Linked DNA regions of Homo sapiens. The protein of the gene in region 1 interacts with the protein of each later gene in a biochemical or structural test. Each region holds a gene or a part of one and is shown on either strand. Other genes may lie near its edges.

The links.
Region 2: the proteins of NAPG (region 1) and RAB11FIP5 form a complex in vitro, tested with the Homo sapiens proteins (one study listed by BioGRID).

What each region holds. Positions count from the first base shown.
Region 1 is NC_000018.10:10,522,916-10,537,913, forward strand, and holds the start of NAPG (gamma-soluble NSF attachment protein), read left to right. Parts: upstream 1-3,111; 5' UTR 3,112-3,187; coding exon 3,188-3,243; intron 3,244-3,531; exon of another isoform or gene 3,532-3,659; coding exon of another isoform or gene 3,660-3,850; intron 3,851-6,085; coding exon of another isoform or gene 6,086-6,130; intron 6,131-7,854; coding exon 7,855-7,922; intron 7,923-9,795; coding exon 9,796-9,880; intron 9,881-10,606; exon of another isoform or gene 10,607-10,620; coding exon 10,621-10,638; intron 10,639-11,550; coding exon 11,551-11,581; intron 11,582-14,998. UniProt on the Homo sapiens protein: Required for vesicular transport between the endoplasmic reticulum and the Golgi apparatus.
Region 2 is NC_000002.12:73,105,908-73,123,383, reverse strand, and holds the start of RAB11FIP5 (rab11 family-interacting protein 5), read left to right. Parts: upstream 1-10,435; 5' UTR 10,436-10,606; coding exon 10,607-11,037; intron 11,038-17,476. UniProt on the Homo sapiens protein: Rab effector involved in protein trafficking from apical recycling endosomes to the apical plasma membrane. Involved in insulin granule exocytosis. May regulate V-ATPase intracellular transport in response to extracellular acidosis.

The DNA.
Region 1 (14,998 bases):
TTGACGGGGTAGGTGAGGGAGGACATGAGCGTCTAAAGAGCCTTAGGAGAGGAGGCAAGAGGTAAGTTGAAGTCACAAAGACAACTTTTGCTGAGGTTCTGGTGGTAGCTGCTGTGATAACAAGAATTACGTTTATGGGTCAACAAGGCCTGGGGTCACACTATCGATTCTAGCTTGGGAAACTACACGTCTTAGTCTATCATCATTTGGTCCATGCTTTCCATTCTCAGTTCTTCTAAGCTGACTTCTCAGTTTAAATTCCCCTTGCTCAACTCCCACCTCAATGTTATTGCAGGAAGAGAAGGGGAGGGGAAGAAAGTGGGGGCATTTGTGTTACACCTTTACTGTGCCCATTCTCTCTCTTCTTCTCCCCTTTACTATGAATGCATGTTAGCACATACTTACCACGGCTTCCCTGGTCAAGGGTCCTTTGAAACATAGAACCCTTGAATGCCCATGGCTATTGATATAGCTCCAACGAATGGAGGAACACCAGGGTTGTTGGTCTCGTGCTGATAGGATTAACAACACGGACACGTGGAGTGGTTTTAAGGAGTGAAAAGTTTAATAGGCAAGAAAGAAGGAAGGAAGAAGAAAACACCTCCCCCATACAGAGACAGAGGTAGGGAGGATTTGAACAAAGAGAAAACCCAGTGTGCAGTGGAAAAGTGGTTGCTTATATTGGGATCCTGGAGGAGGTGGTGTCTGGTTTGCATAGGGCCCAGGGGATTGGTTTGACCAGGTGTGTCATTTACATAGCTCTCGAAAAACCTGGCCCTCCCACCTTAGCCCTTTAATATGCAAATACAGGTCACCGTGATGTTCTGAACACATGGTGTTATCTGGAGGTGGCCATGACACTTGGTACACCTGATGACAAGGAAGAGATGGCGGAATCACCATGTTGAGTGAACTCAGTTTCTAAGGACTGACATTTGCATATCAAAGCTTGCGGGCCTGGCTCTTCAAGCTGCCTTTTCTGTTAGAAAAGAGATGGTTCAGGGGTTGTTTCTTAAAACAGGAAAATTTCCACTGAGAACATTTACCCTTACTATCTGCCTAAAAAGTATTTCTTAATAACTGCTATATCACTATCGTGGGGTTTTTTTCCCATTCTTTCTTTGTTGATGCCAAAGTAAAATTAAGTTAAATATTGTATCCTCTCATAGATCATGAATGCAATGAGGGCAGGCATTATATCTCTTGCTCAACAATTGGGTCCTAGGTGTGTAGGCTTAATGTCTTGTGCAGAGTGGGCATTCAGTAAACAATAATTCAATAATGAATGAATAAATAAGGGAGAATGTGGAGGAGGTTATAGGCTTAGAAAACTTTCTGGGCACTTTCAATGGTTTTAGAGGGTGATGGTATTGGGTGGTTAATAAATCTAAACTCACTTGAAAACATAAGGCTTTCCACTGGTAACAGTCCTTTTATATTTAATCAGTCATCCCAGAGTTGTGGTGAATTGGAAGTCATGGCCAAAGTATTTTACACTCCTCTATTTTCCTACCTCTTGAATCTGAACTTGCCTTATGACATGTTTTCATCAATAAAATGTGGCAGAAGTAATGTGCAGTGGGAGTCCAGGCCTTACGAAGCCTGAAGTTTCCACTTTCACTCTCTTGAAATTCTGCTGCCTTCCTATAAAGGAAGCCCAGGCTAGACAACCAAATGAAGAGGGGTCTTGTGTGTGGGTACTAAATAAGAAAGTGAGGATAGAGAAAAAAATCCAAGGCCAGTTCACCTGTTGGCACTAGAAAAAATGCAAAATATTGATTGGCAAATAGATGCAGGAAGATCGATCGATTGTGTGGTGAGGCCAAAGGGAAGAACTCTTCGAATAGTTATTTCATATTCAACAATAAGTGAGAGTTGGCAGGCAAGCAGAGATTGTGTAGGAGTTTTGAGAAGGAAGGTGTGAACAGCCCTCCAAGTGAGTGGGTGAGTGATTTGACCATGGAAACATAGGAGAGTTGCTCAGCAGCACCAAAGGTCGGCTTAATGTTTATGATCATTAAAATGAGTAATGTTAGCATCCTCGTTTGTTTTTTTCCAGTCAAATTCACTTGCTCAAGAGCAGTTCCAGAGTAGGTGGAGAGCTGGGGTTTTTCCTGGCTTGGAGAAAGGAGGGAGAGGGAGCCAAGGCCGTTGAGAGTATACGCACTAAAATGATGGGACATGAATTTATGCTGGGAAAAGAAGGACGTGTAAGAGCAGAGGGATAGGGAAAGGTGAGGAATCTGGTGAAGGTTAAGTAATTACTAGCACTAGGAGGTATGAGCTGGAATGGAAAGGGGAAGTAAAGTGAGCTGTTTGAAACTGACACTACGGAGGGTACACAGTTATGAGTAAGGTCAAGGGTGTGATCCCAGGAATGTGTGGCTGCGCTAGTGTGGGAAAGATCACAGGAGGTTGGAAGCTGAGAGGCTGTATAGTCATTGCAGGAATCATCCATGTGGATATTGAAATCACCATGAATTATGAATGAAGCCAACTGTATTACTGGTTACTATTTTTACCAGACCACTGTACGCGACTTTAGATCCCTCAACTTCCCATTTAGAGCACTTATCACGGCTTGAAATATTAGAGCGATTATTTGGGTTGGGCGCGGATTATTTGACAGTAATCAGGGTTTACAAGTCTGTTTCGTTTCTTGACTGACATACAATTAATACCCAAAAGGCAGAATGGATAGAAGAATACTATTCTATCTGTCATACAGAGAAACTTCAGATGTAATAAATTATAAAGCCAATTAACCCTACAAACAGGATCCACAGCAGTTTCACATTAATGAAAAAGCAAGACTTCAAGAGGGCGGGAGTTTTTGTCTGCTGATCTTCCCGCATCTAAAATAGTGCCTGACACATATTAGGTGCTTTGCAAATATTGAATGAAAGAATACGCCCCATCAGTATCTCACCGCGCCTGCGCTAGATGCCCTAGGTGGGGCCAGCCTTGACGCGCTGCGCCTGCGCAATGTCTCTTTGCGGGGCGCACCGGCAGGCTCCCAGCCCCGCTTCGTCGCAGCGGCTTGGGCCCTCCGGCCCTCCGTAGCCGCTCGACTGTCGCGCTGCACCAGCTTCCTCCTCGGCGTTCCCACGCCTATTTGGGCGGATTCTTGGCGCCGGAGGAAGAGGCAGGGTCACCCTCTCTCCACGTCAGAGACCTGACTGTGGAGATGGCGGCTCAGAAGATAAACGAGGGGCTGGAACACCTCGCCAAAGCAGAGAAATAGTGAGTGAGAACCTTCCGGGGGCCTGTGTGTAGACGCCGGGTCCGTCTCTCACTGGCGCGGCCTTAGCACCCGGGGGGGGCGGGAGGGAGGGCTCAGGGCTGAGGGGCCTCGGCGCGCTGGTGCCCGCAGGGCTGCCGGGGCTCGGTGTCCTCTGGGTCACACTCCCGGGGTCGGGGTCAGCTCTGCGGCGCCTCGGGAAGCGCCGTGGGTCCACCCCGCCGGAAGTCCGCTCCCCAGAGCCGGTGTGGGCGGGGACTCGGCGCAGTGCTGCGGGGCGAGGGCTTCTCTACTTGGGCGCTCTGCTCCTGAAGATTGTGGTGGGGGCTGTCTGTGCATCGGAGGCTCGTTAGCAGCATCCTTGGCCTCTACCTGCTGGGTGCCGGTCGCATCTCTTCCCCATTTGTGGCAACCCAAAATGTCATCTGGGGAACAACATCGCTCTGTTGAGAACCACCGCCCTAGAAGAGCCCCCTGTGTGGAGGGGACCATAGGTTTACCCCAAAAACTCCTCGGTGAACCTTTGTCATCTGGCATTTTACTGTCCCTGTGGGCAGGGACTGTGCTTCGTTCGTCCTTTGATGTGTATGTCCTGCCACCTCTGGTACAGTACGTAGTAGGCACCCTGCAAATGTTTGTGGGACTGAACTGATAATCCTTAATTCATCCTTTTGGCAGCCTCTTCCCCCCGTTTCATTACTCCAGTGCATTTTTATCTGGCAGTTACAGTTAATAGAAAGTCAGCATTGTGGGCCGGGCGCGGTGGCTCACGTCTGCAATCCCAGCACTTTGGGAGGCCGAGGCGGGCGGATCACAAGGTCAGAAGATCCAGACCATCCTGGCTAACACGGTGAAAACCGTCTCTACTAAAAATACAAAAAATTAGCCGGGCGTGGTGGCGGGCGCCTGTAGTCCCAGCTACTCGGGAGCCTGAGGCAGGAGAATGGCCTGAACCCGGAAGGCAGAGCTTGCAGTGAGCCGAGATCGCGCCACTGCACTCCAGCCTGGGCCACAGAGCGAGACTCCGTCTCAAAAAAAAAAAAAAAAAAGAAAAGAAAAAGTCAGCATTGTGCTCTGTGGTGGGTGCTTCACATACATAATTTCATAAGCTGAGATCTTCACAATAACTTTCCAAATAGAGATTCTAATTTTTCGTAAGAGGAAATGAGACTCAGGGAAGCCTCATAACGACTTGCCCCCAACTGCACAGGTGAAAGATCGCAGAGCCAGTTTTCAAACAGTGGAAAAACTCAAGCTCTATCACATGACTCGAGGCAGTCAGCGTGTAAGGTGCTGGGGCTCTCCTGGTGCAGGAGGTTCCCACAACATTCTGCTTTCTAGTGGGAGCAAACGCAAAATTTGTAATAAGAATAGTGTGTGGAATAGGGACCACAAAAAAGCTGTATTAACTGTGCATAGGTAACCCAGAGGGAGAAGTTTATTCTGCCTGAGAAAATTTGAGGAGGAGATGATTTGTGAGCAGAGCTTGAAAAATACGGAATGTTTTAGACGGAGGGAAAATCTTGTGAAAGAGATTCTGTGCGCAACCTGTAGTATGTATTATACGCGGGCCTGAAAATGTGCTCTGGGAACAGTGAATGTAGTGTAGTCACAGTGCCAGGGGACGAGCTGGAGTGAAAAAGAGTTGGGGCCAGACTGTGAAGGGACAGCTTCTCACATGGCTATTGTAGGCATCCAACCAGTGGACTCGGTTAGATTTGCTTTTGGTGAAAGAAATGTGGCAGCAGGCTGGGCCCTGTCGCTCATGCCTGTAATCCCAGCACTTTGGGAGGCTGAGGCGGGTGGATCACTTGAGGTCAGGAGTTCGAGACCAGCCTGGCCAACATGGTGAAACCCTGTCTCTACTAAAAATACAAAAATTAGCCGGCTGTGGTGGCGCGCACCTGTAATCCCAATTGCTCAGGAGGCTGAGGCAGGAGAATCCCTTGAGCCCTAGAGGCGGAGGTTGCAGTGAGCGGAGATCGCGCCACTGCATTCCAGCCTGGGAGACAGAGCAAGACTCTGTATCAAAAAAATAAATAAATAAAAAGGAAAAGAAAAAGAAATGTGGCAGCAGTGTGGAGAATGGACTTTGACATATTCAGTAAACGAACATTTACAAAGTTGTCTCTGTGTACCTGTACCAGCCACAGAGGATACTGGAGTAACCAAAAGTGGTCCCTTCTTCAAGAGCTTAGAATTCACAGGTGGGCAGACAAGTTAACAGAGGACTAAAAATAGGATGTTCAGTGCTAGAATAGAAGTATTCAGTGTGGTATGGTAGAGATAGGAAGCAAGGAAAAGGTAATATGCTCAGGATGTGGGGAATGGAAGAGGAGGAAAGGTGACTCTCCCATGAAGGTACTGCCAGACATGTTAGTGGGTTGTCGACTTCAGGGGAGAGGTGGTGATGGCCTGAATTCAAATAACAGTACAGGGGTAGGACTGGGTGATGTTTGTCAGTAAGGTTGACATGCTTTAATGAGGTGCCTGCATGTAGAGATGAAGAGTTAACTCCTAGGTTTCTAACTTGGGAGACGAGTGGGAGAGGCCTTCAGCCAAGATAGGGGATATAGATTAATGGATGTGATTGGTGGGTAGGTCTGGGGCAGGGAGGTGGGGCGGGGAGGTGTGGAGTTCAGGCTTGAAGTGTTAGTTTGAAATGCTGCTAGACAGAGTTACTCAGTGGGTGGTAGGAAAAATGGGCCAGGAGCTTAGGAGATATTTGATTTTTCTCCATTTTCTAATGATGACGTAGTTCAATATTGCTGAGTAATTTTGTAAATTGATCCCCACACAGATGGTAATTTTGCTGTTTTCTTTTTTTCTGTGGAAATTGGTCAGTTTCCTTATTGATTCTTTGGAGAAAAAGGTCAAAAGGACTAACAGGTATGGCTGCTAAACCCAAATTAGCTGTATATCTTTCTTCCTTATTAGTGGTGTTCATGTGACTTGGGATGGTTTGCCCAGTTTTAAACTCTCTGGGTCTTTCCGTGTATAGCACATTAGGTGACGGAGTGATTGTATCTTGTTTTTAGTGGGATTAAAAAAATTATGTTAATATACAGAATGTAATGTTTGTTATGGGATAGGAACAGAGGGTTAGCATTTTGCATATTGCATATTTCCTCAATTTTGTAGATTTGAGTAGACACACCACAATTTAAGGATATTATTTTTCTGAACAGTGAAATTCTTGGTAAGCTTGAAAAATTGCTTATTTTAATTTGAATCTTGTAACACTATATACACAAACAAGTTTTAGATGCTAAATATGTTGAATAAATTTAATTGGCAAAAAATGTTACTGTAGCTGGCTGGGTACAGTGGCTCATGCCGGTAATTCTAGCTCTTTGGGAGGCCAAGGTGGGCGGATCACTTGAGGCCAGGAGTTCGAGACCACCTGGCCAACATGGCGAAACCTCTTCTCTACTAAAAATACAAAAATTAGCTGAGTGTGGTGGCACAAGCCTGTAATCCCGGCTACTGAGGAGGCTGAGGCACGAGAGTCACTTGAACCTGGGAGGCGGAAGTTGCAGTGAGCCGAGATAATACCACTGCACTCCAGCCTGGGTGACAGAGCGAGACCCTATCTCAAGAAAAAAAAAGAAGCTATGACTTTGTGGCAGTTCCCATGGCTGTCACATAATGAAGGCTGTACTTCTGAGTGCTCATACAGATGCCTCATCTTTCAGTTAAGATACTCCCCTGAGTCATTTGAAGCAAGCAGTGTTCTGTGCAAGCAGGCCTTCACTAATTGAATGACATTTAGAATTTACGATGGTTTGGGCAATTTCTATGCACACCCAAATTTGACAGTTACTGAATTAGTTTAAACTAAGTCTGAAATTATTTTAAAATAAGAAAATAAATATTGAGGAAAAGGCAAGTAAGTTAAGGATTCAAAATTGATTGTCCTTTGGTTTGGCATCCAAGAAGCCAGTAGTGATCCTAGAAAGCAGTTTCTCTTGGCTTTTGTAATATCCTTCCCTTTCTGATTATCCTTCTTGTTTATGGGTGGCGAGTTTTCACTTTTTTTTTTTTTTTTTTTTTTTTTTTTTGCCTACTTCCTCTGTTGTTTCACTGAATGATTGTATTCCTTAGTCTTTCTGTTCTCTCTCTGCAGTCTCACTAGGGGATCTGATCTCATCTATGCTCTTGACATATGCTTATGATGCCTCCATTTATGTCTCTAGACTCTTGTCTGTGCGTCAGTTTCATGAATCCCTCTGCTGTCGATACTGTGCTTCAGAGGTTCTAAAGCTTTAATGCACCTTTGAGCTCGTTAAACCTCAGAGGTGCTGTAGGCTTGGGATGGGGTCAACAATTTACGATTTTAGTAAGTTCCCAGTTAGTGCTGATGGTGCTGGTCCAGGGACCATGAATTGAGAACCTCTAGGAGGAAAACCACGTACCTGTGACAGTGGGAGTGAAAGAGGTGAGGTTGTGTTTGTTAGGCCTAAGTTTGGATGGAGGCGGGTGACACAGAGTTTGTGCCTGATGGTTTCTCCTTTTTTTTTTTTTTTTTAAAGACCTAGAAGGTCATTACAAGCAGAGATCTGACTTATAAATGTGGTTGGTAACTCCTGTTAACTGTGTTTTTTTCATTCTAGCCTGAAAACTGGTTTTTTAAAATGGAAGCCAGATTATGACAGTGCCGCTTCTGAATATGGAAAAGCAGGTATTTTTGACTATAGTCCAGTTGCTCCAGTATGTAATCTTAAAATAGTCTGATAACTTCATTTCACCATAATACTTACTCATATGCTTTCTATAAGGCTTTAATAGTTAAAAAACAAACAAAACAACTGTGCAAGCCCTTGAGTTTTTTTCCACTTGTTATTTTCAGATGTGTTGAGAGCTGAGTCAGAGTTCCTGGTACCTGCTGTCTATGACAGCAGGGATGGGGCGGGGTTGGTGATACACAGTAGTGGGTTTTTAGCGTTGCTTATATATTCTTTAACTCCAGTTATTTGAATACCATATCCATGAGTTTTGCCATATTTCTCTATTATACTTTCTATTGAATTAGGAGTTTGTTAAATTTTTTGTTAACTTAGCCTCATCTTAACCTGATACGCAAATCATATGTTTGCTTGGTATTTTATGTCTTTTATGAACCTCACTTTGAGTGTATCTGTTCAGTGTTCATGAAGTGTTAAGCTATATACATATTTTAATCAATTTATCTTTATATAAGATATAAACAATCTAAAATATGCAACAGAAAGGGAATTTACTAAAAATGTAGCATTCTGAATTACAGAATGATAGCTTTAAGCATACCTGTGATAATTTGCAGTATAAATATAACAAAATTTTGAAGTACCTTGAACACATTTTCAGTTGTATTTCAGCGATAGCCCTTATCACATTTGTTAGCCTAGCATAGAGATCATCTGGGGCAAGTGCTTTTGGTTAAACAGCAAATGAGTCTTCAGTACTTTTATTTAAATCTGAGTAAATTCTGTTTTTTTGCATCATGCAAATTGTTTATCTTATACTTGAAAATTATTAAAAGTTCAAACTTTGTATGAATTTTGTGGACTACTCATGCAAGGAGGCTTCTGTAGCAGAAGGGAACAACATTTTGCAAGTTTCCTCTGTGAGGGAAATTTAACACAGATTTGTTTTCTGCCCCTCTGAGATCATGAATTACATTCAAAAATAAATGTTTTAGATGAAATTTTCCCCCTGAAGCATCCTTTGTTTATTTTCTTTAAGGGCTTATGGAAAACCTATTTAATCAGAATAAATTTTTTAAAAAGCAACATATGGAAAAGCAGGGAGGGGAATAGCTTCAGTATTTGGTTTTCACATTTTATTAAAGAGAATTTTAAGAGTGTTTTTAACAAATAGCACTTTTCTTAAAGCATTATGCTTTTTGCTTCTTTGTAAGCAACCCTTGATAAGTTTTCCAAAATTTGTAAGATCATATGTTATAAGCACTCCTGTTTTGTTTTGATGATTACACTTTTAAAACAGCTTTCAGTATGCTTTAGCTGTTTGAACAGTGAGACATCTTTTTCATAGATAGTAAACAGTATAAAAGATTGTTTTTTTAAAAAAATGCATTGTTAGACATTTAAAGATTGTGCCAAAAGGAAGGTTTATTATAAAAAACTGTTAAATGTGCTTATTGGCCCTCAGTTTCTACCTAATCGAATGACCTATACCCAAAATACCGTTTAAAGGTAAAACTGGTGAAGTAAGGTGCTGTCTTTTGTGACTGAAGAATCTGCCGGTTACTGGGGAGTATTGGGGAGTGTTGGTGTTAGAAAGACTTCTTGATTTTGAGTGGAAGAAACACTGATTTGTTGCCAGTAGTCAACAATTAAAAAAGAAAAAGTTTTAAAAATACTCGTAAGTTACCAATAATTGGAAAAGTTGTAAGGAAATTGCTTTAGAAAAAAGTAATATTTTATAGTTTTAGGATACTTCCTAAGTATTTGAAGTAAGTATGTTTATAATACTTCATATAAAATGCAGATTTCAGTAATGATTCATTTGAGGTTTTTAATGATGGAAATAGTCAATTTTTTTTTCTATTTCAGCTGTTGCTTTTAAAAATGCCAAACAGTTTGAGCAAGCAAAAGATGCCTGCCTGAGGGAAGCTGTTGCCCATGAAAATAATAGGGCGTATCTTTTTCAACTTTTAAAAAGAAATTAAACAATTAGATGATTTTGACAAGCTGTTTTCTCTTGCTGTAAATTTACTTTACTACCTGTGAAGTAAAATGTTTTTAAATTAGAAAATGATTAGAAAAATTCTGTATTTTTAAACTATGAAGGAGCGTTTATAATGAAGTTTGATTATAAGGTCCACACTGGTTCGCAGAGCTACAATACTTACTTTCTATTGTTTGTGATTTTACTTGATGATGGTTTTACTTGGGATGAAGTAAAGTAAATCTGTAGACATGTGCTGAAGAATGAAGAAGTAGCACAGGTATTGAAAACACGTGAACTACTGTATCAATTTTTTTAAATACAGTTTTCCTTAGGTATTTGAAATAAAAATTATAAGTAGTTTAAAACAGTACATTTTCTTGAGGTGTTTGCAAACTTATCAATAAAAAATGTTTCTCTTATTTGCAAACTGTAGTCATAATAACTTTGTACTTCAGTAAAACTTCAGATTATTGCGTAATAGAAATAGTTTAAAATCTGTGCAGTGTTTTGTTAGTGGTTTTGGGAATTATGTAGTTTTAAACTATATTGACAGGTATTGAATTACTTCTTTTTTACCTGTTTGTAGGATTTGTCTTTTGGAACCAACTGGGTCAGTGATTTAGTTAACTGTCTTTAAATAGTTGATCTATAGAAACTATTGATTTTTTTCTTTTTTCCTTAACTTTGACTTCGTTACTTCCATTCAGTCTTTTTCATGCTGCCAAGTAAGTATTCTTCATGTTTTCATGTATTTGCAAATTATGTTTTAAATGTTGCTGTTTTTCTGTAGGTTGGTAATTTTTTCCCAAATTATAAATTTTGTATTGATTTAAATAATAATCATTTCTCTTTGCTTCAGTTTTTACCTAAACCTTAAAAACCAAGACTTACTCCTAACTGTAAGATGTAAAGAGTTTAAATTAAATTTGCCATAATATTTTATTAGGAGCATTTTGTTCAGTAGCCTATGGGAAAAAAATAAGTTAGGATCTCTTTTTTCCTCTGTTTGATAGTTAATGGTGCCTGTGGAGATGAAGCAGGAAGCTTTCTCTTGCCTTGTGGAGAGTAGTTATTTGTTGGCCGAGGCAGGCGGATCACTTGAGGTCAGGAGTTCAAGACCAGCCTGGCCAACTTGGTGAAAAACCTCGTCTCTACTAAAAATACAAAAATTAACTGGATGTGGTGGCACGTGCCTGTAATCTCAGCTGTTGGGGAGGCTGAGGCAGGAGACTTGCTTGAACCTGGGAGATGGAGGTTGCAGTGAGCTGAGATCGTGCCTCTGCTCTCCAGCCTGGGCGACACAGCAAGGCTCCATCCCAAAAACAAACAAACAAACAAAAAAACTTAGGTTTAGGTTTGTCAGATGGAAATTAATTTAACCTTACTGAGCCTTACTTAATTTTGCATCTGCAAAATAAAATCTCTTTAACTCAAATGTCTGATGTTCTAAGCCATTATTCCCCACAAAAAAAGAATAAAAAATTATATTGTGTGGTAATATAAGCCTGAAGTGATATGTTGTGCATGAGCCCATTGTAATTGAAGTCACTTTCCTTACCAGTAGTTCCTCACCAGAAAGTTTCTTCTACCCCTTATTTCGTTAAGATCTCATCAGAGAAATTATATTCTCTTTGCAGAGCTTATGAGCAAGCTGGAATGATGTTGAAGGTCAGTAATGTTATGTCACAATTGTTGTGTAGGTAAAATGAATTAACTACAAGGTGTTAAACAAGAATTTTTGTTGAAGTTGAAAAGCTTCCTTACTGTAAGGCAAGAGGTGCTAAGTTAAGATTTTCTGTCCACGGTAACGTTAATTGGACCCATAGAATACATTCTGTACGTCTTAAGGAATGTTAAAAGTGAAATTTAAGAGAAAATGTATTGGAGTGAACTGGGAACACTAATGTTCTAAGCTCTATAACCAGGATAGATGTGTATTGCTATAAAAAGAGCTCTATGGGAAGTTTCTCTACTTTTGAGAAGGACATCTAAATGTAGTAAAATTTTATAAATATTAAAAAATTATCATACATGGGTTATAGAAGAGATTTTTACTTATGTGAATAACAGTTGGCAGCAGAAACAACCACAGATTTAAGCTTTTGCTACTTTAATTCATTCTGCATGGAATATTCCAACTAATGTACCTGTGCCACTGTTTGTACTTCTGCTCCTCAAAAGCAGGCCAGGAATTAATGTCCTGCTGTGGTGAGACAGAACATACTACTTTATGATGCTGACTTTCAAAGTATGCCAGCTGGCAGTTGAAATGAAGTATTTGTCTTTCTTTTTTAAAAATGTTTTTTTCTAAAATGGTAAAAGCTACTTTCAAGTATTTATTATAAAGCTTTGTTTTTAAGAACTTTTACCTTAGTAAAGCTTTTGTTTTTAATTTCTATGACTTTTATAATGTGAACTTACTCATTTTTTTAGTGAACACATGCTCATTGTAGACAATAAAAAATACCGAAAAGTTAAAGAATGTTAGTAATAGCTGTTAACATACTTAGTTTAAAAGATTTTATAGTCTTTGACCCAGGAATTTCAATTCTGTGAGTCTATCATCGAGAGAGAGAGATCAAAGATTTATGCATCAGGTTGTTTCTTGAAGAAATGCCAATTATCTAAATTTTGAATAATAGGAAAGTGAGGTTGGATGTAGTGGCTCATGCCTGTAATCCCAGCACTTTGGGAGGCCAACGTGGGTGGATTACCTGAGATCAGGAGTTCGAGACCAGCCTGGCCAACATGGTGAAACCCTGTCTCTTCTAAAAATACAAAAATTAGCTGGGCATGGTGGCGGGCGCCTGTAATCCCAGCTACTTGGGAGGCTGAGGCAGGAGAATTGCTTGAACCCAGGAGGCAGAGTTTGCAGTGAGCCGAGATCGTGCCATTGCACTCCAGCCTGGGCAACAGAGCGAGACTCTGTCTCAAAGTAATAATAATAATAGGAAAGTGTTTAAATAAATTATGATGCTTCCTTATTATAAACTATTATATATCCATTGAAATAAAGCTTTTCTGGCCAAACATGCAACTGAATTGGTATTTGGTGCCGCAAGTTAGGTTATTAACCACAGTTCCTTTGAAACCATAGAGTTTCTCTTACGGCCAAAGAAGCTGGGGATCTGCTCTGGTCTTCTTATGTCTCATTTTCCTCTGAGAATTAGGAAGCTCCCAGGTGGCTGTTACATTCTTAGTGTACTTCATGCCTGTTTAAGAAATGCTCAAACACTCTAATTCTCACAGCCTCAGTTTATATTACAACAGCTGTACTAAGACTTGAATCTTCATCAAAAGTTATTATTCAGGCATCATTTCCATTGCTCAAGTATCTATTTAATTTGAGGGTTGGAAAGGCACTACTTTGAATGAAAGAAAATTAACTTAGTGGATAGGGAAACAGATGAAGGAAAATGCTTTCTGGCATTGTCTTATATTTAAATTAAATGCCTTTGGACACTGTTGGGAGCACAGGACCCCTGAGCTACGTGGTCCACAATTCTGTGGGCTAAAATTTCTACCAATTTGTCATACAAACCTTCACACTGATTCACCAGAAAGGCTTGGGGAGTGCCATTTTGTAGACATATGCACAAGGGAAGCCACAGAAACTTGTTGGATCAACCTTTGGTTCTGTCACTTGATGACTGCTGTGATTTCATATCCTGTTTGCTCCACTGGCACACAGCCATTGAAAATAGGCATATTTATGGTGGAGGGTATAACTTTCAAGTAGGCAGCTCATCATTTTTTATGGAGAAGTATCAATATTGTGGTTGGACCTCTTACTCACAGCCTCACTTGATTTTACGCAAAAACAGGAAGATGTAGTTGCTAATTTTTAAACAACAAATAGGACTCGGATGCCATTTTTACTGCCTTCTAATGTATTTTTTGCTCTATCTACTGGGTAAAACTCATGACGAATAGTTCCTGTGGTTTTTTTATCCTCCCAAATGCTTTTATGTTGTAGATTCACATTATATATGTAATTAGTGGGTAGGTATATTTGGGGAGGAAATACAGTTGACCCTTGAACTACCCAAGGGTTGGGATGCCAACCCCTTGTGCAGTTGAAACTCTACATATAACTTTTTACTCCCCAAAAACTTTACTAATAGCCTGTTTTTGTTTTTTTTTTTTGAGACAGGATCTTGCTCTGTTGCCCAGGCTGGATTGCAGTGGCACAATCATGGCTTACTGCAGCCTCAACCTCCTGGGCTCAGGCGATCCTCCCACCTCAGCCTCCTGAGTAGCTGGGACTATAGGTGCATGTCACCATGCCCTGCTAATTTTTTAATTTTTTTGGTAGAGACTGGTTCTCGCTGTTTTTCCCAGGCTGGGCTCAAACTCCTGGGCTCAAGTGATACTTCTGCCTCAACCTCCCAAAGTGCTGGGATTATAGGCGTGAGCCACTACCCTACTACTGACTGGAAGTCTTATAAATAATATAAACAGTCAGTTAGTACATATGTTGTATGTTGTATGGAATATGTTTTATACTGTATTCTTAGAATAAAGCTAGAGAAAAGAAAATATTAAGAAAATCGTAAGGAAGAGAAAATATATTTAGTGTTCTTTAAGTGGAAGTAGAGCATCATAGGGCTCTTCATCCTCATCATAGTCTTCACGTTTGGGCTGAGGAGGAGGAAGAGGAGGAGGAGGAAGAAGAGGGGTTGGTTTTGCTGTCTCAGGTGGCAGAGGAGCAAGACAGTCTGCGTATAATTGGACCAGCACAGTTTAAATCTCTGCTGTTCAAGGTTCAGTTGTATTCTTTAAAAGCCAAAATGACCCTCAGGACTAATGTGTCTGAGAGAGATTTTGTTAGGTTTACCTCCCCTGTTCATTCAGATATTTTTCAGCAGATATTGTAGACTCGGATTCTTTCATTGACTTTTGGTTTTATAACAAAAAAAGTATTGTTTTTATTTTTTCACTGAGGTTTGGAAATGCATTAGCATTTCATTCTGCTTGAGTGAATGATAGCAGTCTTATTTCATACAGTGTCTTTCAGTCTGTGTTATTGTTAGTTTCCATAGCTAAATAATAAAGTTATGTTTTGGGGTTGGCGAAAATGAGACC
Region 2 (17,476 bases), on another chromosome or scaffold:
TGGGGTCCCAGAGGCAGAGAATAGGTTTGAGGGAGTTTGGGGGAAGGAAATGGTTAACTACCACATGCAAAGGGGAGGTTAAGATAAGGACTGAAGGAGGGCCTGGGATTTTGCAATTACGAATGCAAGAACAACAGGGTAGAAGGATAGAGAGCCAGGATGCTGTGGAATTGGGTATGAATGGGGCAGTGAGCGGGTAAAGGCAGAAGAAGTCAATCAAATTTAGGAAACGTCTCAGAAAGAAGGACGTGGTACCGGCAATATTGAAAGGGTGTTGTGGTTTTCTGGCTTTATCGGGAAGGACATGAGCATATTTATGTGATGAGAGGAGGAAACAGTGGATGAGAGGTACAGAAATGAAGGGGAGGATAGAACCCTGGTCTGCCTCAAAGCAGAGGAAGGAAAGTTAAGCACTCAGGAACAACTCTTCCTCTGAGATGCAAAAAATGCAGTTGGAGATTGTAGATTTTGGGTAGGAAACTGGGGATGAATATTCATGTTCAACTTTTTGTATGGACACACGTTTTCATTTCTCTTGGATGCATATCTAGGAGTGTGAAATTGCTGGGTCATATGGTTACTCCATGTTTAACAATTGAGGATCTGTCAAACTGTTTTCCAAAGTGGCTGCACTGTTTTACATTCCTACCAGCAGTGTATTAGTTTCTAGTGTCTCCACATCTGGAAAACACTTGTCATCTGTCTTTTTATTATATCCATTCTAGTTGGTGTGAAGTGATATCTTATTGTGATTTTGATTTACATTTCTCTAATGGCTAGTGGTTTTGGTGTCTTTTCACATGCATGTTGGCCATTTGTATATCTTTGTAGAGAATTATGTATTCAAATCACGCACCCATTTTTAAACTGGGTTGTTTTTTTATTGTTTTTCTTTTGTTTTGGTAGAGAAAAGGCCTCACTCTGTTGGCCAGGCTGGAGTGCAGTGGCAAGTTCATAGCCTACTGCAGCCTCAAATTCCTAGGGCTCAAGGGATCCTCCTGCCTCAGTCTCCCAAGTAGCTAGGACTACAGGTGAGTGCCACCATGCCTGGCTAGTTAAGAAAAAAAATTTTTTTGTAGAGATGAGGTGTTGTTATGCCCAGGCTAGTCTCAAATTCCTGGACTCAAGCAATCCTCTTGCCTTGGCCTCCCAAAGCATTGGGACTACAGGTGTGAGCCACTGTGCCCAGCCTGTCTTTTTATTGTTGAATTATAAGTTCTTTATACATCTAGATACTAGTTCCTTATGAGATATATGATTTGTAAATACTTTCAGCCTGTGGAGTGTCTTTTCACTTTTTTCGATGGTGTTCTCTGAAGCCTAAAATTTTTAAATTTAGACGGAATCCATTTTATTTTATTTTATTTCATTTATTTTAAGGAGTCTCACTCTGTTGCTCACGCTGGAGTGCAATGGCATGATCTTGGCTCACTATAACTGTTGCCTCCCAGGTTCAAGCAATTCTCCTGCCTCTGCCTCCCGAGTAGCTGGGACTAGAGGCGCACACCACCACACTCAGCTAATTTTTGTATTTTTAGTATAGATGGGGTTTCACCATGTTGGCCAGGCTGGTCTTGAACTCCTGACCTCAGGTGATCCACCCACCTCAGCCTCCCAAAGTGCTGGGATTACAGGTGTGAGCCACTGCACCCAGCCTTTATTATTTTTTTTCAGTTGCTTGTACTTTGGTGTATCTAAGAAGGTTTTGCCTCATACAAGGTCATGAAGATTTATTCCTATGTTTTCTTCTAGGAGCTTTATAGTTTTAACTCTTACATTTGGGTCTATAATGTATTTTGAGTTAATTTTTGTGTGCAGTGTAAGAAAGGGGTCCTGCTTAATTCTTTTGCATGTGAATATCAGCTGTCCCAGGCCATTTGTTGAAAAAACAATACCTTCCCCATTAAATGGTCTAGGTACCTCTGTTGAAAATCAATTGGTCATAAATGTAAGGATTTATCTCTGGACTCTATTTTATTCCACTGGTCTATATGTCTATCTTTATACCAGTACCACACTGTCTTTATTTGTAGTAAGTTTTGAAATCAAAAAGTGTGAGTGCCCTTTGTTGTTCTTTTTCAAGATTGATTTGGCTATTTTGGGTCTCAAGCGTTTCCATGTGCTTTTCAGGATCAGCTTTCCAATTTTTGCAAAAACAGCAGTTGGACTTTTGAGAGGGGATATGTTGAATCTGGCGAGTATTGCCATCTTAACAATAAGTCTTCAGTTCCATGAACATGAAATACCTTTCTATGTATTTAGGTTACTAATTTCTTTCAACAATGTTTTGTAGTTTCCTTAGATTTCTTTCTTTTTTTTTTTTCCTGAGACGGAGGACAGAGTCTCACTCTGTTGCCCAGGCTGGAGTGCAGTGGCACGATCAACCTCCACCTCCCACGTTCAAGCTATTCTCGTGCCTCAGCCTCCCAAGTAGCTGGGACTATAAGTGTACACTGCCACGCCCAGCTTATTTTTGTATTTTTTGTAGAGACAGGGTTTTGCCATGTTGGCCAGACTGGTCTCGAACTCCTGACCTCAGGTGATCTGCCTGCCTCAGCCTCCCAAAGTGCTAGGATTACAGGCAGGAACCACTGCACCTGGCCTAGACTTCTTTTGTTGAATTCATTTCTAAGTATTTTATTTTTTGAAGTTATTATAAATGGAATTGTTTCGGCCAGGCGCAGTGGCTCACGCCTATAATCCCAGCACTTATTGGGAGGCTGAGGCGGGCGGATCACGAGGTCAGGAGATCAAGACCATCCTGGCTAACATGGTGAAACCCCGCCTCTACTAAAAATACAAAAAATTAGCCAGGCGTGGTGGCGGGCACCTGTAGTCCCAGCTACTCGGGAGGCCGAGGCAGGAGAATGGCATGAACCTGGGAGGTGGAGCTTGCAGTGAGCTGAGATAGCGCCACTGCACTCCAGCCTGGATGACAGTGCAAGACTCTGTCTCAAAAAATAAATAAAAATAAATAAATAAATAAATAAATAAATAAATGGAATTGTTTCCTTAATTTTATTTTCAATTGTTCATTGCTAGTGTATAGAAATACAATTGATTTGAATGTGTTGATCTTGTACCCTAATAACCTTGCTGAACTCGTTTATTCACCCTAACAGATTTTAGTGGACTCCTTAGGATTTTCTATTTACAAGATCATGTAGTCTACAAATAGAGATTGCTTTACTTTTCCTTTCCAATCTAGATGATTTTATTTATTCTTTTTGCCAAATTGCCCTAGCAAAGATATAAGAAATCCCATTTTGACTTGTACCCTGAACAATTGTTTTGCTCTGAGATGCTGTTAATCTGTAACTTTGCCCCAGCCACTTTGCCCCAACCTTGAGCTCACAAAAACATGTGTTGTATGGAATCCAGGTTTAAGGGATTTAGGGCTCTGCAGGATGTGCCTTGTTAACAAAATGTTTACAAGCAGTATGCTTGGTAAAATTCATCGCCATTCTCTAGTCTCGATAAACCACGGGCACAATGCATTGCGGAAAGCCGCAGGGACCTCTGCCCTGGAAAGCTGGGTATTGTCTAAGGTTTCTCTCCATGTGATAGTCTGAAATATGGCCTCGTGGGTGAGAAAGACCTGACCGTCCCCCAGCCCGACACCCGTAAAGGGTCTCTGCTGAGGTGGATTAGTAAAAGAGGAAAGCCTCTTGCAGTTGAGATAGAGGAAGGCCACTGTCTCCTGCCTGCCCCTGGGAACTGAATGTCTCGGTGTAAAGCCCGATTGTACATTTGTTCAGTTCTGAGATAGGAGAAAAACCACCCTATGGCGGGAGGCGAGACATGTTGGCAGCAATGCTGCTTTGTTATTCTTTACTCCACTGAGATGTTTGGGCGGAGAGAAACATAAATCTGGCCTACGTGCACATCCAGGCATAGTACCTCCCCTTGAACTTAATTATGACATAGATTCTTTAGCTCACATGTTTTTTTTCTGACCTTCTCTCTATTATCACCCTGTTCTCCTACCACATTCCTCTTGCTGAGATAATGAAAATAATAATCAATAAATACGGAGGGAACTCAGAGACTGGTGCCGGTGCAGGTCCTTGGTATGCTGAGCGCCAGTCCCCTGGGCCCGCTTTTCTTTCTCTATACTTTGTGTCTTATTTCTTTTCTCAGTCTCTCGTCCCACCTGATGAGATATACCCACAGGTGTGGAGGGGCAGGCCACCCCTTCACTACAAATATATATATAAACTTATATGATAAACCCAATGGCTAAGGGATAGGGCTTTGCAATAAATATTGGGAAACTTGGATAGCTGTTGGGGGAAAGCAGGTTAGATATTTACCTGAAATCATTCATCAAAATGGTTGCTAGCAGGATTTAAAGAGAATAAAAGAACAAACAAAAATCCAAACAACTTAAAAACTTGAAAAAATCCAAATGAATATTGTTGGACCTGTAAGTTTGGAAGAACTCAAGCTTAAAACAATGGAAAGAATTCAAAGATTTGATTATCTAATTTTATTTATTTATTTAGACAGGGCCTGAGCTCTGTCACTCAGGCTGGAGTGTAGTGGTGTGATAATGGCTCACTGAAGCCAGGACGTCCCGGGCTCAAGCAATCCTCCTGCCTCAGACCTACTCCAACCCCCTCAGTGGTCAGGACTACAGGCGTGCATTAGCACACCTAGCTAATTTAAAAATAATTTTTAAAAAGAGACAGGGTCTTGCTACGTTGTCCAGGCTGGTCTAGAACTCCTGGGCTCACAAGTAATCTTCTTGCCTCGGCCTCCCAAAGTGCTAGGGTTACAGGCATAAGCCATTGCACTCAGCCTACCTAATGTCTTATATCGAAAACATATCCAGGCTGGGAGCAGTGGCTAAAACCTGTAATCCCAACACTTTGGTAGTCTGAGGGGGGTGGATCACCTGAGGTCAGGAGTTTGAGACCAGCCTAACCAACATGGCAAAACCCTGTTTCTACTAAAAATACAAAAATCAGCCGGATGTGGTGGTGCACACTATAGTCCTAGCTACTGGGGAGGTTGAGGCAGGAGAATCGCTTGAACCCGAGAGGTGAAGGTTGCAGTGAGCTGAGATTGTGCCACTGCACTCCAGTCTGGGTGTCAGAGCAAGGCTCTGTCTCAAAAAAAAAATTAAATTAAATTAAAAAAAGAAAACCTGCAGTAAATATGAACAACAAAGTGTTACTATTCTTTTTCTTTTTTTTTTTTTTTTTGAGATGGAGTCTCGCTGTCTCCCAGGCTGGAGTGCAGTGGCACGATCTTGGCTCACTGCAAGCTCCGCCTTCCGGGTTCACACCATTCTCCTGCCTCAGCCTCCTGAGTAGCTGGGACTACAGGCGCCCGCCACCGCGCCCGGCTAATTTTTTCGTATTTTTAGTAGAGACAGGGTTTCACCGTATTAGCCAGGATGGTCTCGATCTCCTGACCTTGTGATCCGCCCACCTACGGCCTCCCAATGTGCTGGGATTACAGGCATAAGCCACCGTGCCCGGCCTTCTTTTTCTTTTTCTTTTGAGACAGGGCCTCATTCTGATGCCCAGGCTGAGGTGCAGTGACATGATCACAGTTTGTTGCAACCTCGACTTCCCAAGCTCAGGTGATCCTCCCACCTCAGTAGGCATGTGCCACCACACCCAGCTAATTTTTGTATTTTTTTTTTTAGAGATAGGGTTTCACCATGTTGGCCAGGCTGATCTCAAACTCCTGGACTCAAGCAATCCTGCCTCCTCAGCCCCTTAAAGTGCTGGGATTACAGGCATGAGTCACTGTGCCTGGCCATGTTACTATTCTTAACATATAAAGCATTTGTATAAATAATAAGAAATTAAGGCTTCAAAGAAAAACAAGCATAGAAAATAGGCAATTCAGAAAATAGACAATTCATTAAAGAAGGAAATACAAATGACTAATAACTGAAAAGAAGTTCAATCTCTCTGGCAATCAAAGAAATGCAAATGAAACAACAAGGAGGCAGAAGCTTTTGCCTTCAGCAAAGAGTTCTAAGATGATAATTCATGCTCATTACTGCTTAGGGTGTATTGAGATAGCTCTCATACTAACCCTATGAGGTAATTTCTTATTAGCAGGCCCATTTTACAGAGGTGGAAACAGACTCAGTAGGGTTCAGTAATTTGCCCATGCTTATACAGTTAGTAAGTGGTGGCACCAGGGCTTAGACCTGGGCATGTGGTTCTGCTATAAAGAGGGCCTGGAAAATAGCTGCAGGAAGGTGAGGTGAAGAACAGAGGGAAATGTAGCTGGAAGAGCAGGACAAATACATGTGAAGTGTCTACATGGAAAAGCAAATGGGCTTAGTGGTACTGAAGAGGGGGCAATGAGTGGAAGCTACACATAGGTGGATGCTTTTCAAGCAAGAACTGTCTCCAATGGACTAGAGAGGCCCAGGAAGGCAGTGAGGACACCCAGCCCTGGGGAGGCAGAGGAAACTGATGCTTTTGGGGTCTTCTTGTCTAACTCTTATGCAGGCTGCTGCAGGGAGTGGGGGGGATCTCATCTTATAGAGGAGGAAACACACCTTTAGATGGCCAAGACCTCAGTATCTGGTGTTTCTGCTCTTTTCTCAACCACAGACAGCTAGCAGACCTGGCTTTTCCTTCTAGGGCCAGGCAACGTGGGGTGGGAGCCCTGGCTGGTTTCGTTCCCCTCCTATAGCCAGCCACAGTCCAGAGCCAGCAGGAAGCTTGAGCTTGCCAATCTGTGAGGGCCAAGGCAGGAGGAAAGAGAGCCAGAGGGCAGGTGAGGCAGAGGAGCCATCTGAGTGCTCTCCACCTTTTCCCCTTTCCTGGTGCTTTGCTCCTCCTTGGCGGAGGAGGAGGGAGGGAGGAGGTAGGAGCAGTAACGTTGGAGAACAGGCAAACAGATGAAACAGACCCGCTGAAGGAGTGACACATTTATGTTAGTTGAAGTTTAGTGATGATATCGTCACTTGCAAAGTCCTTGAAGAATTCACTCTTAAAGTGGGAGGTTCATCCTGACTCTTGTAACCTTGGTTGCCTCAATCTTCGTCTGTAAAATGGGTATGAGAACACTTCCTTCTTTATTGACTTTAAATGGATCTAGTGCTTGGCTGACCAACAAGCTGGTGTGAGAGCAGAGTACCACAGCCAGTAGAGCCACTCAGTCTCTACAATTTTCCGGTTGGAGACTTGGGGAAAATCACCCAAGCTCTTCCTGCTTCTGTTTCCTCATCAGTGAAACCAAGGGTAGCACTTGCTTTAAATGGTTATCTTCAGGGTTAAACATGACTATGTGTGTGTGTGTGTGTGTGTGTGTAAGTATTATATGTATATACTTTTTCTTTAGTATACAGACTTATAGCCAAGAGTGATAATATATATAAAGTAATGGTAGAACCAGGACTCCAAAGCCCACAGATTTAATAATTATACTTTAGATGTCTCAAAAACCATAATGTATATAAAACAAACACATACAGTATAAAGACTAGAAAGAAACACAACAAATTATTAACAGTGTTTATTTATGGATGGTTGCGTTATGATTTATTTCCATTTTTTCTTTTTTTGAGAGAGAGTCTCACTCTGTTGCACAGGCTGGAGTGCAGTGGTGCGATGTTGGCTAACTGCAACCTCTGTCTCCCAGGTTCAAGTGATTCTTGTGCCTCAGCCTCCTGAGTAGCTGGGATTACAGGTGTGCCCCACCATGCCCTGCTAATTTTCATAGTTTCAGAAGAGACGGGGTTTCACTATGTTGGTCAGGCAGGTCTGGAACTCCTGACCTCAAGTGATCCATCCGCCTCGGCCTCCCAAAGTGCTGGGATTACAGGCATGAGCCACCAGGCCTGGCCCCATTTTTTATTTTTTTGAGACAAAGTCTCATTCTGTCGCCCAGGCTGGAGTGTAGCAGCACAATCTTGGCTCACTGCAACCTCTGCCTCCCAGGTTCAAGTGATCCTTGTGCCTCAGCCTCCCAAGTAGCTGGGACTACAGGTGCCCACCACCACGCCAGGGGAATTTTTTGTCTTTGTAGTAGAGGTGGGGTTTCACCATGTTGCCCAGGCTGGTCTTGAACTCCTGGCTTCAAGTGATCCACCAGCCTGGGCCTCCTAAAGTGCTGGGATTACAGGTGTGAGCCACTCCGCCTGGCTTGAGGTAAGAATCATTATCCCATTATCCAAATGGAGAAATAAGGCCAAGAGAGGTTAGAGAGTTGGCTTAAACTTCAGGTTTCATAGCTACTAAGAGGCAGATGGCCAATATCTGTAGGCAGATCTGGCTGTCTCTAAAGCTAGGTGCTATCGTCAGGGTTGCTGGACCATGGGGCTGGTGCCTAGGACTTCCCCACTCCAGTCTTCTGATGGAAGAGTTAAGGTGGGAGGCTGTGAGGACTGGGCCTGTGCTGGGTGTGCTATCATGGGTCTCCTCTGCCTACTCTACTGGTTTCCTAGGTTCATATTCCCAGTAGAGGACATGGCCTGGAAGGTGGACAGTTGAGGGGTACTGTGGAGTCTCCCTAAGAAGAAATACATGTTTCTCCTGTTGGGTATCCTATAGAGCACTGGTTCCCCACCTTTTTGACACCAGGGACCAAAATGTAAGTTTCCACAGACTGAGGGTGGCAGGGATGGTTTCAGGATGATTCAAGTGCATTACATTTACTGTGCACTTTATTTCTCTTATCATTACATTGTAATATATAATGAAGCAATTATATGACTCACCATAATGTAGAATCAGTGGGAGCCCTGACCTTGTTTTCCTGCAACCAGATGGTCCCATCTGGGGATGGGAGACAGTGACAGATCATCAGGCATTAGATTCTCATAAGGAGTATGCAACCTAGATCCCTCGCATGCACAGTTCACAATAGGGTTTGTGCTCCTAGGAGAATTTAATGCCACAGCTGATCTGACAGGAGGTGGAGCTCAGGCGGTAATGCGATAGGAAGCGGCTGTAAATACAGATGAAGTTTCACCAGCTAGCCCCTACCACCACTCACCTCCTACTGTGCAGCCCAGTTCCTAACAGGACATGGAGGGTTACCAGTCTGTGGCCCAAGGGTTGGGGACCCCTGCTATAGAGGAACTAAAAATAATAGCATAACTACACAAGATTGAGGGATGGAAGTGGGTGTGAGCCAGCTAAATCATTATCTATCATAGGAGGAAGGCAACAGACAGTGGCCAGTCCTGATAAATGCAGATGTAGCTATGTGAGCATCTTAATGTAGTGATGTGGAGGTAACCATCAGACCTGAAAACACCAGTGGCTTTAAGCAGCATCCCTGGATTGAAGGATGGAGAGGGAGTTCTTGCTTTTCATTGCAAGCCATTCTGTCCTATTTGATTTTTTTAAAAAAGCTGTGTGTATTATTTTTAAATTATTATTTTAAAAGTACAGGCTCTGAAAGTTAAAAAAAAAAAAAACGCTCTGGGGGCATCTAGTGGATTCACAACCCTCCCCCATCTGAGCTGACATTTTATCTTCTGGAAAATAGGGATAAAAGCCATACTCACCCCACAGAGTTGCTCTGAGGATAAAATGAGGTAATGCATATAAAAGCGCACTGACCAGAGTTGGCTGAAATTCAGCATCTATAATTACTAAACATCGTTATTATCAATAATAAACCAAGTATACGTTAATACTTAGGCCCTGGCACACAGTAGGCACTTAATAATGGGTGGAAGTAGTTATTTAACCCCCCACCAGGGCCTGTAATTTCCCCCAACCCGTGACACACTGGCCCCAAGGCTCCGAGTGAACACTTAAATATTGATGTGGTTACTCATTTATTCATCACTCGGCTCTCCGCCGCAGAGTCTGAGGAGGGTGAGCCCCGCTCTCGGGCCTCCCGCGCCGCCGCATGGCCGCATCCCGGCCCCCTGCGCCGGGAGAGATTGGAGGCGGCGGCAGCTCACCCGCTTCCAGGTCGCCGATGCGGGACCGTCACGTGGCGGGGCGGCAATCGCTCCAGTTTCACTCCGGCATTTTCCCCCGCAGGGGCGGACTGGAGGAGGGGAGAGCGCGGCCCGGGGTCAGGGGAGCGGCGGGGGTCCCCATCACCCCAAGTCCGCGCCAAGAGGCTGGCCATCCCAGGAACTGCGGGCCGGGACCCTTTTACGGAGAGGGCTTTCCGGAGCAGGGACTTTTAGAAGGAAGACGTGGGATTGGCCTGGAGGCGCAGAGCGGGTTTTTCGTACCTGGCCGCGGGTGTAGGGCTCCCCACAAGCGAGGCCGGGTTGCTTCGGGCGCCCCCAGCCAGGGGCGGGGCCACCGCGGGAACTCCGCCCACCCTCTGCAGAGGCCGCGCACCGCCCCTTCCCGCTCCGGGCTGGTCTGCGGCTGCCGGGGCGCGAGCTGCGTGCCCGCATCCCTGTCGCACCGCCTCGCCGGTTGGGGCGGCGGGCGCGGGGCGGGGCAGGGGGCGGGGCGCTGACGTCGCGGCGCGGCCCGCGGCCAGCGGCCCGGTGAGGCGGGGAGGCGGCGGCCGGTCGGCCCGGCCCAGCCCAGCCCGCAGCTGCGGCGGCGCTCAGAGTTGGTTCCTGACCGCCTTCTGCCGCGGCCGGGTTTGTCACCAGGTCCTGGGGTCTGCACCGGCTCGGCCAGACCTCGCCCCCCGCTTCTCCGCCATGGCCCTGGTGCGGGGCGCGGAGCCGGCGGCGGGGCCTTCCCGCTGGCTGCCCACGCACGTCCAGGTGACGGTGCTGCGGGCCCGCGGGCTGCGGGGCAAGAGCTCGGGAGCGGGCAGCACCAGCGACGCGTACACGGTGATCCAGGTGGGCCGCGAGAAGTACAGTACGTCGGTGGTGGAGAAGACGCACGGCTGCCCCGAGTGGCGTGAGGAGTGCTCCTTCGAGCTGCCGCCGGGGGCCCTGGATGGCCTGCTGCGGGCGCAGGAGGCCGACGCGGGCCCGGCGCCCTGGGCCGCGAGCTCCGCCGCCGCCTGCGAGCTGGTGCTCACCACCATGCACCGCTCGCTCATCGGCGTCGACAAGTTCCTGGGCCAGGCCACGGTGGCGCTGGACGAGGTCTTCGGCGCAGGCCGCGCCCAGCACACGCAGTGAGTAGGGGGCGCGGGGGCACAGAAACGGCTAAAGGCCTAACAGGGCGGGGCTGGTGGGGGATCAGGACCCCGAACTTCAGCCGGGCCAGTGAGCCCTTGCCTCGTGCTTAAGGGCGTAAACCGACAGAAACGTTGGTTCTTCGCATTTCGGGGTCGTCTTCAAGCTTCCCAAACGTGCGCTGTGTGGGGCTCAGCCACTGGTGGTCCCTGGGAGGCCTGGGGGAGGTTTAAGTGGTGGCGAACGTTAGGAGTAGATTGTCAAGTAAAGTTAGGAATGAGATTCAGAGGCTTTGGGGCTATGGAAACCTCAAGAAGGGAAATCTTGGGGCCGTTCTTAGAACCTCCGGGCCTGCCTCCCTTTCCTCAAAGGGGAGGGGAACTGCGGGCGCCTGTCCGGCAGGGGAGTGGAGAGGCGCAGCCTTGCCCTACGGGGGAAGGAAAGCCAGGTGTCTTCCTCCAGGGCGAGGTTGAATGTTGATTACCCCGCTAAACGTAGAAGCTGGCTGCAGGGGGCATCTGCCTCTTGCTCTCAAGATGCCCTCCACTATCTAGAGATGTCACCCCCCCACCCCCATCCTGTCCCTCTGTGTCCTGTGTCCCTGGTCTGAGGATAGGAGGAGCTTCTAAGTTAAGGAAGGAAACACTTGAGTCAGCCTTCCAGTGGCCTGCCTGCCTGCCCTGCCCTGCCTGAGGTAGAGGCAGCGGCATGGTTAATGAACAGCAGGAGATTATCTCCCGGTCACTTCCACCTCAGTGGGCCAGGGTTTTTTTAAATCATTTATTTTGGCAGCATTTAACCTTGCCTGTGTTAAGATCAAGGCTTCAGCCTTGGAGCCCCATTTCCTGTTTTGGGCTTGGGCAGGAGCTGGAAGCCAGTCCCCGGGGCTGACAGCCTGCTGTGGATCACTCAAGTGGTTAACTTGGGAGTGATCTGGGTAGGAGGGTAAGGGGATTGGGGCAGGACTGTGCCTTAGGTCAGGAGAGGTGCCGGAAAGGTTTGCCCCAGTGGAATGGCATCCACTGAGTGAATAAATCCAGGAAGGCTTGCTGGAGGAGGGGGATGAGCCTGGTGCAAACCCAAATGAAAGCAGGATTTAGGTAAAAAGGATCTGACCTTGAATGTTTTCTGAAACATGGGTGTGGAATGACTTTCCTGGCTGGCTCTCTGTGGTCTGGGATGGGGAGGGCGTTAGTGCAGGTTCCAGGCATGGCTGTGACCTGACTCCATTTCCCCATCCCCTGGCCTGCTCCCCGCCTTCCTTCATGACTTGCTGTTTGGTGGCAGGGTGTGGGATCATGTGGTATATAGCTTGGACCTTGTTTTTTTCCTCCTTTCTGTCCTCTCCCTCCTTCCTGGTTCCTGGAGCCCAAGGGGGTGGGTATATGGGGCGAAAAGCTCTCTCCTGGATCTCTTAGCCCATTCTTTTTCAGAAGAGGTGCCTATCCCCCAAATCATTCCACCCCTTCCCCCAGTCCTTCACCCTCCACCAATCAGCTACTCTGACCAGACTGTTAGATGACACATCTGTTCAGGGGGTGCTGGGGGAACAGGAGGAGGCAGACCAAAAAAAGGCTCCAGGCCTGCAGGGAGCAGCTTCTTTGATTGTTTTTTCCAGTTCCTGCCCTTGCTTTCCTCTTGGCCTCTGGATCTTCCTTAGCTGAGCTGGCCAAGCTTGTAGGTCCAGGTGGACCCATTTTCAGCCAAGAACAGCCTGTCTTGGAGAATTTGACTTACCACCCCTTGATCTGAATGGGAACCTTAATTTATTTTATAGAAATCATCTTTTCCACCAGGATCTTTCCACACCCACCTGGCTGTTTTCTCTGATGCAACAACCTGGTTTATTTATAGAACCGGGGGGGGAACAGGAGTGGGGAGGGTCACTTAGGATGGGCAGAGGAAAGTCTGTGAAGTTGGCCTGGTGCTCTAGTTTACTGGACCTAACAGCATGCCCACTGACAGAGGGGGAGGGCTGTCACCCCCGCTGTGGTCCCCACCTCTGGCTGTAGTGGTCATTCCTGGTGGTATTTCCTGGAGCACCCTGGTGTGGGCTACCAAGACTGAGTCTGAACGCTGCCTGGTAGGGAGAGGGCAAGGCAGAGAAGACCAGGGTGTACCCTCCTCAGCTTTGGATAATGGTGGAAATGAAAAGTATCCATTCTTTAACTCCAGGAGTTGGCTGTGGTGGTCTCAGGTAGGGCAGGTGGTGGCCCTTTGCCAAGAGAGGACCTGACTGGGGAAGGTACCCTTATGGTTAGGAAGGGGCTACAGAGTGGCACTGGACAGATCCCAGTCCCAAAACTGCCACCTGTGGCAAGTCATATAAACTCTTGGTGCCTCAGTTTTCACGTCTGTAAAATGGAGATAATTTATACCTTCATATGGTTGATGTGAGGGATGAAATGAAAATGCAGCTTAAGCACCTAGTACAGTCCCTGTACATGGTAGGTGGTCAGTGCAGAGCAGTGATGGTGAAGGGAGATTTTAGTAACAATGTCTGGAAGAGCTTCTTATGGGATGGGGGAGACAGTCTAGAACTTAGAGCCTAGGAAAGCCTTAGGACCATGGGTGACGGAGTACACAGAAGAGTACGAGAGTTCCCAACAAAATGAGCTGGCCCTTTGCAGCTCTCTGTATTCTATTTGCTGCAAGAGGCCCAAGAAATAGGGCTGGGCTTGAGAGGCCTCTGCAGTCCTGAAACCAGGCTCAGATAAGCCCGCAGCTCTGCAGCTCTCCTCCCTGGCAGCCCTGCCTGGAGCTGCCCCTGCCCTGTTGGGAAGGAAGGATGGCCCAGGGCTTAAAAACCTGGAGACTGGGATTTCACTCCCCGTTCTGTGACTTACCAGCAGACAGGTTACTTATCCCACTTCCTCACTTTGAAAAAGGTCATGATAATAATCATAGAGTTGTACAGATTAGATAAGACACCATCTGTAAAAGCCTTAATGTAGTTCTGGATACATAGAAGCTCTCAAAATATTAGCGTGGTGGTGACTCTGGGGCCCCATTTTGTGTGATGGTGGTGGCTGGGGTTGTAGGTGCTTCAGCAGCCTCCGAAGGTCTTGTGTGAGTGGGGCAGTCTTTGAAATGAGGAATTTCACCAGAGGCTTCCAAATAATTGAAGAGGATATTCTCAAAACAAAATGTAATGGTAGTACACAAGGAAACTAATGATCTCCCCACCCTCAGTAGAACTGTCCATGGATCGTCATGTTCCTGTTGGTCTGGAAATCCTGGATGCTTCTCTGCGATTTATTTTCTGGTTTTTATCTTCAACATCCTTTTTTTTTTCTTTTTTGAGACAGTGTCTCACTCTGTTGCCCAAGTTGGAGTGCAGTGGCAGAATCTGGGCTCACTTGCAATCTCTCCCTCCCAGGTTCAAGCGATTCTCCTGCCTCAGTCCCCTGAGTAGCTGGGATTACAGGCATGTGCCACCACACCCAGCTAATTTTTGTATTTTTAGTAGAGACTGGGTTTTGCCATGTTGGCCAGGCTGTTCTCAAACTCCTGACCTCAGGTGATCCACCTGTCTTGGCCTCCCAAAGTGCTGGGATTACAGGCATGAGCCACCACGCCTGGCCCAACGTCCTTCTTAGCACTCCCCAGTGGGTGTCCTGTGTTTGCCTCCCTAACTCCCAAGACAGGGATGGGATGTGGTGGTTAGTTAGTTTTCCTTGTTCCCTGTGGGGTCAGATGGGTCATTTGGACCTTTTTGGTCTTTATGCGATTGGTGTGGATCACACCCCCAGGGAATGGACCTGGATATATCAGAAGAGGGAAGGAAGGAAGCAGCAGCAAAGGTTTTGGAGTAAGAAGACAGGGCATCTGCCACAAGGCCATTTTGGTTGGGGAGACCTGGTCTTTGCCCCCTGGAATGCTGGTCTTTGTGTGTTTTAGGAGAGGAGGAGAGAGCACAACTGTGTTATATGGAGCCCCTGTCCACCTTCTCCCTCATCCTGATAAGGGTGAAATGGTCCCTGCGGTAAGGCCTGGAGTGTGGCAGACAGGATCGTCATCCTGGGCCTGTTGGATCAATGGTTAGAAGCTGGCCTCTTGGGAAAGCAAAGGCTGTGGGTTCAGCTTGGGTTGGGATCAGTTTGTCTTTTTTCATCACAAAGACTAAAACTGTTGTGACCATGAATTGTGGCCTGCAAGAGGCTCCGTTCAGCCCCTGCTTAGACTGTGCCACTTGGCAAGGGAGCTCGGAGAGCTGAGGCTGTGAAAGATGTAGGTCTGAGATGAGAGCCTTCTGCCTGGCTGGTCATGGTGTTCTGAGACCTCCTTAGGTGGGTGGGTTTGGGGGCACTGGGAGGCACCTGAGGGGACATGCATCCCATTAGCCTAAGGCTGGGATGGTCTTTGAGGGCTTCCATCTATCCCGTAGCCCACAGACAGCCTGGGCAGACAGTTGGTGGGCAGATGGTGCGTGACCCCACAGCCTTCTCTCTGTTGGCTTCTGGGTGTGACTCTGCCCCTCGGGAAACAGCTGTGGTCACTTGAGCCCCTGGCCTTGGCTCCTGCTCGGCCCCAGAGCTGGCATGGGAGGCCTGTGGCACTGCTGGGGAGGTCTACTCTGGCTGCAGAGGAAGGGTGTGGCTGCACTCAGAAGCCAGTCGTTGGTATGCCGAGGCTCCACGGCCCTTAGTTATGGGGTGGTTTTTATTTGGGGTTGCTTGAGCAGCAGCGTCTTGGGGTGTGGGGCGGGGTAGGAAGTGTGACTCCTCAGTCAGGCTGGGCAGCTCCTCCTCTCTGGCCTGGCAGCTTCCCCTGCCCTCCCCATCTGCCCCTGGCCCTGAGCCCTGGCTGGGACCAGGGAGTTTCAAGGGGCCTGTGGTCAGCCCCATCTCTGCCCCACCTGTCTCTCCTTGTAGGCAGCTGGCTGCAAGGCACAGCTCAGCAGAGCCACATCCCGGTGACCTTGAGGGCTGTCCTTCTCTGCTGGGAGCTGCCCGCCCCACTTGTCACTGCTGCCACCTCAGTGCTGTGACGCTCTTGTCTAAACCACTGGCCTGGCCTTGTCCAGATGTTCTCCTGCCCTTCTCACCCTACGCAGGGACAGATGATGAATACAAGAACAGAAGCTGTTGTGGCTCTGCTCCAGGGGAAGCAGTCCTCTTTTTCTTTCCTTTGCAAAATAGTGTAGCCATGAAGCAGTTTTGTTCTTCCCCACAGCCAAGTAATAAAAATGAGTCCACATGTGAGTCTGCTGTGCACCTGGCAGTCCCTTCAGGGAAGAGTCTGATCACAGTGCCCTTACTGAGCTGGCCTGAGGTTATTTCTACCTTGGGAACAATGGTGGCCAGAGAGGAGAGGGACTTGGCTGGCCACATGAGGCCTCTGTATGGAGCTGGGCCCCGGCCTCTCAGGAGCAGTAAGTGGGGCCTCCCAAAACGGGGCTCCCAGGGGCAGCCAGCACCTCCGAGAAGCTGCAGGGTGGGGAGGGGGTATCACAGGCCACTGTGACCTTTGGTTCACCTGGTAGTGGAGAAGGGAGCACAGCCCTTACTCATGGGACTCCAGCATGGGAGCTGGAAGAGAGCTCAGACAAGGAAACTGGGGTTTGCAGAGGGAGAGCTGCACACTCTCACTACCCAGCACTTAGTGGAGGGTGTGCTCTGTGTGGTTTCCATTAGACCCGGGCAGCCCACAGAGCTGTAGGATTTGGGGTAAAGAAGAGGTGGCATTTGGAGCCCTGTGTGCACCCCGGAGTTTCTGTGGAAGTGCCTGCCAGGTTTTAGTGAGATGGGGACATTGGGCTTCTCTGCTGACCTGGAAGGGTAGTCCAATCCAAAGGCAGTTCTAGAGGCCTGAAAGGCCAAGAGTGGGCCACTGGTGGGGGAGAGATTCCAAAGGGGGGGAAGCCTGGATATCTCCCTACATTTGGAGGAAGCCCTATAGCCAAGTGCTGTGTTTTGGGGCCTAGACAGGGAGCCCTGGAGATGTTCGGAGCAGACAGAGCCACTGGCGCTGGCTGTGGTCTCCTCCTCTGTGAGGAGGGGACATACACCAGAGACCTGTCGGCCATCATGGAACCCATCTGCCTCCCCAGCCTTCTCTGAATCCCCACATCTGGAGCATGTGGCACCTGTTTTGGTGCATTATTTTCATTGCCTCGTTGGTCTAGTGCATTGCTGATGAAGGCCTATCTGGGTGCTGGCACTGTCTTAAGGTCTGGACTTCCATTTGTCCACAGCAAGCCCTTGAGGTGTAGGTGCTGTTTAACAGCTGAGGAAACCTTGGCACGGAGAGGTAAAGTGACTTTGCTTTTTCTTTCTTTTTTTTGAGGGGGTGGGGTCAGGGTCTGGCTCCATCACTGAGGCTGGCATGCAGTGGTGCCATCATAGCTCACTGCAGCCATGAACTCTCAAGTGATCCTCTTGCCTCAGCTTCCCAAAGTGCTGAGATTATAGGCATGAGTCACTGGACTTGACCACA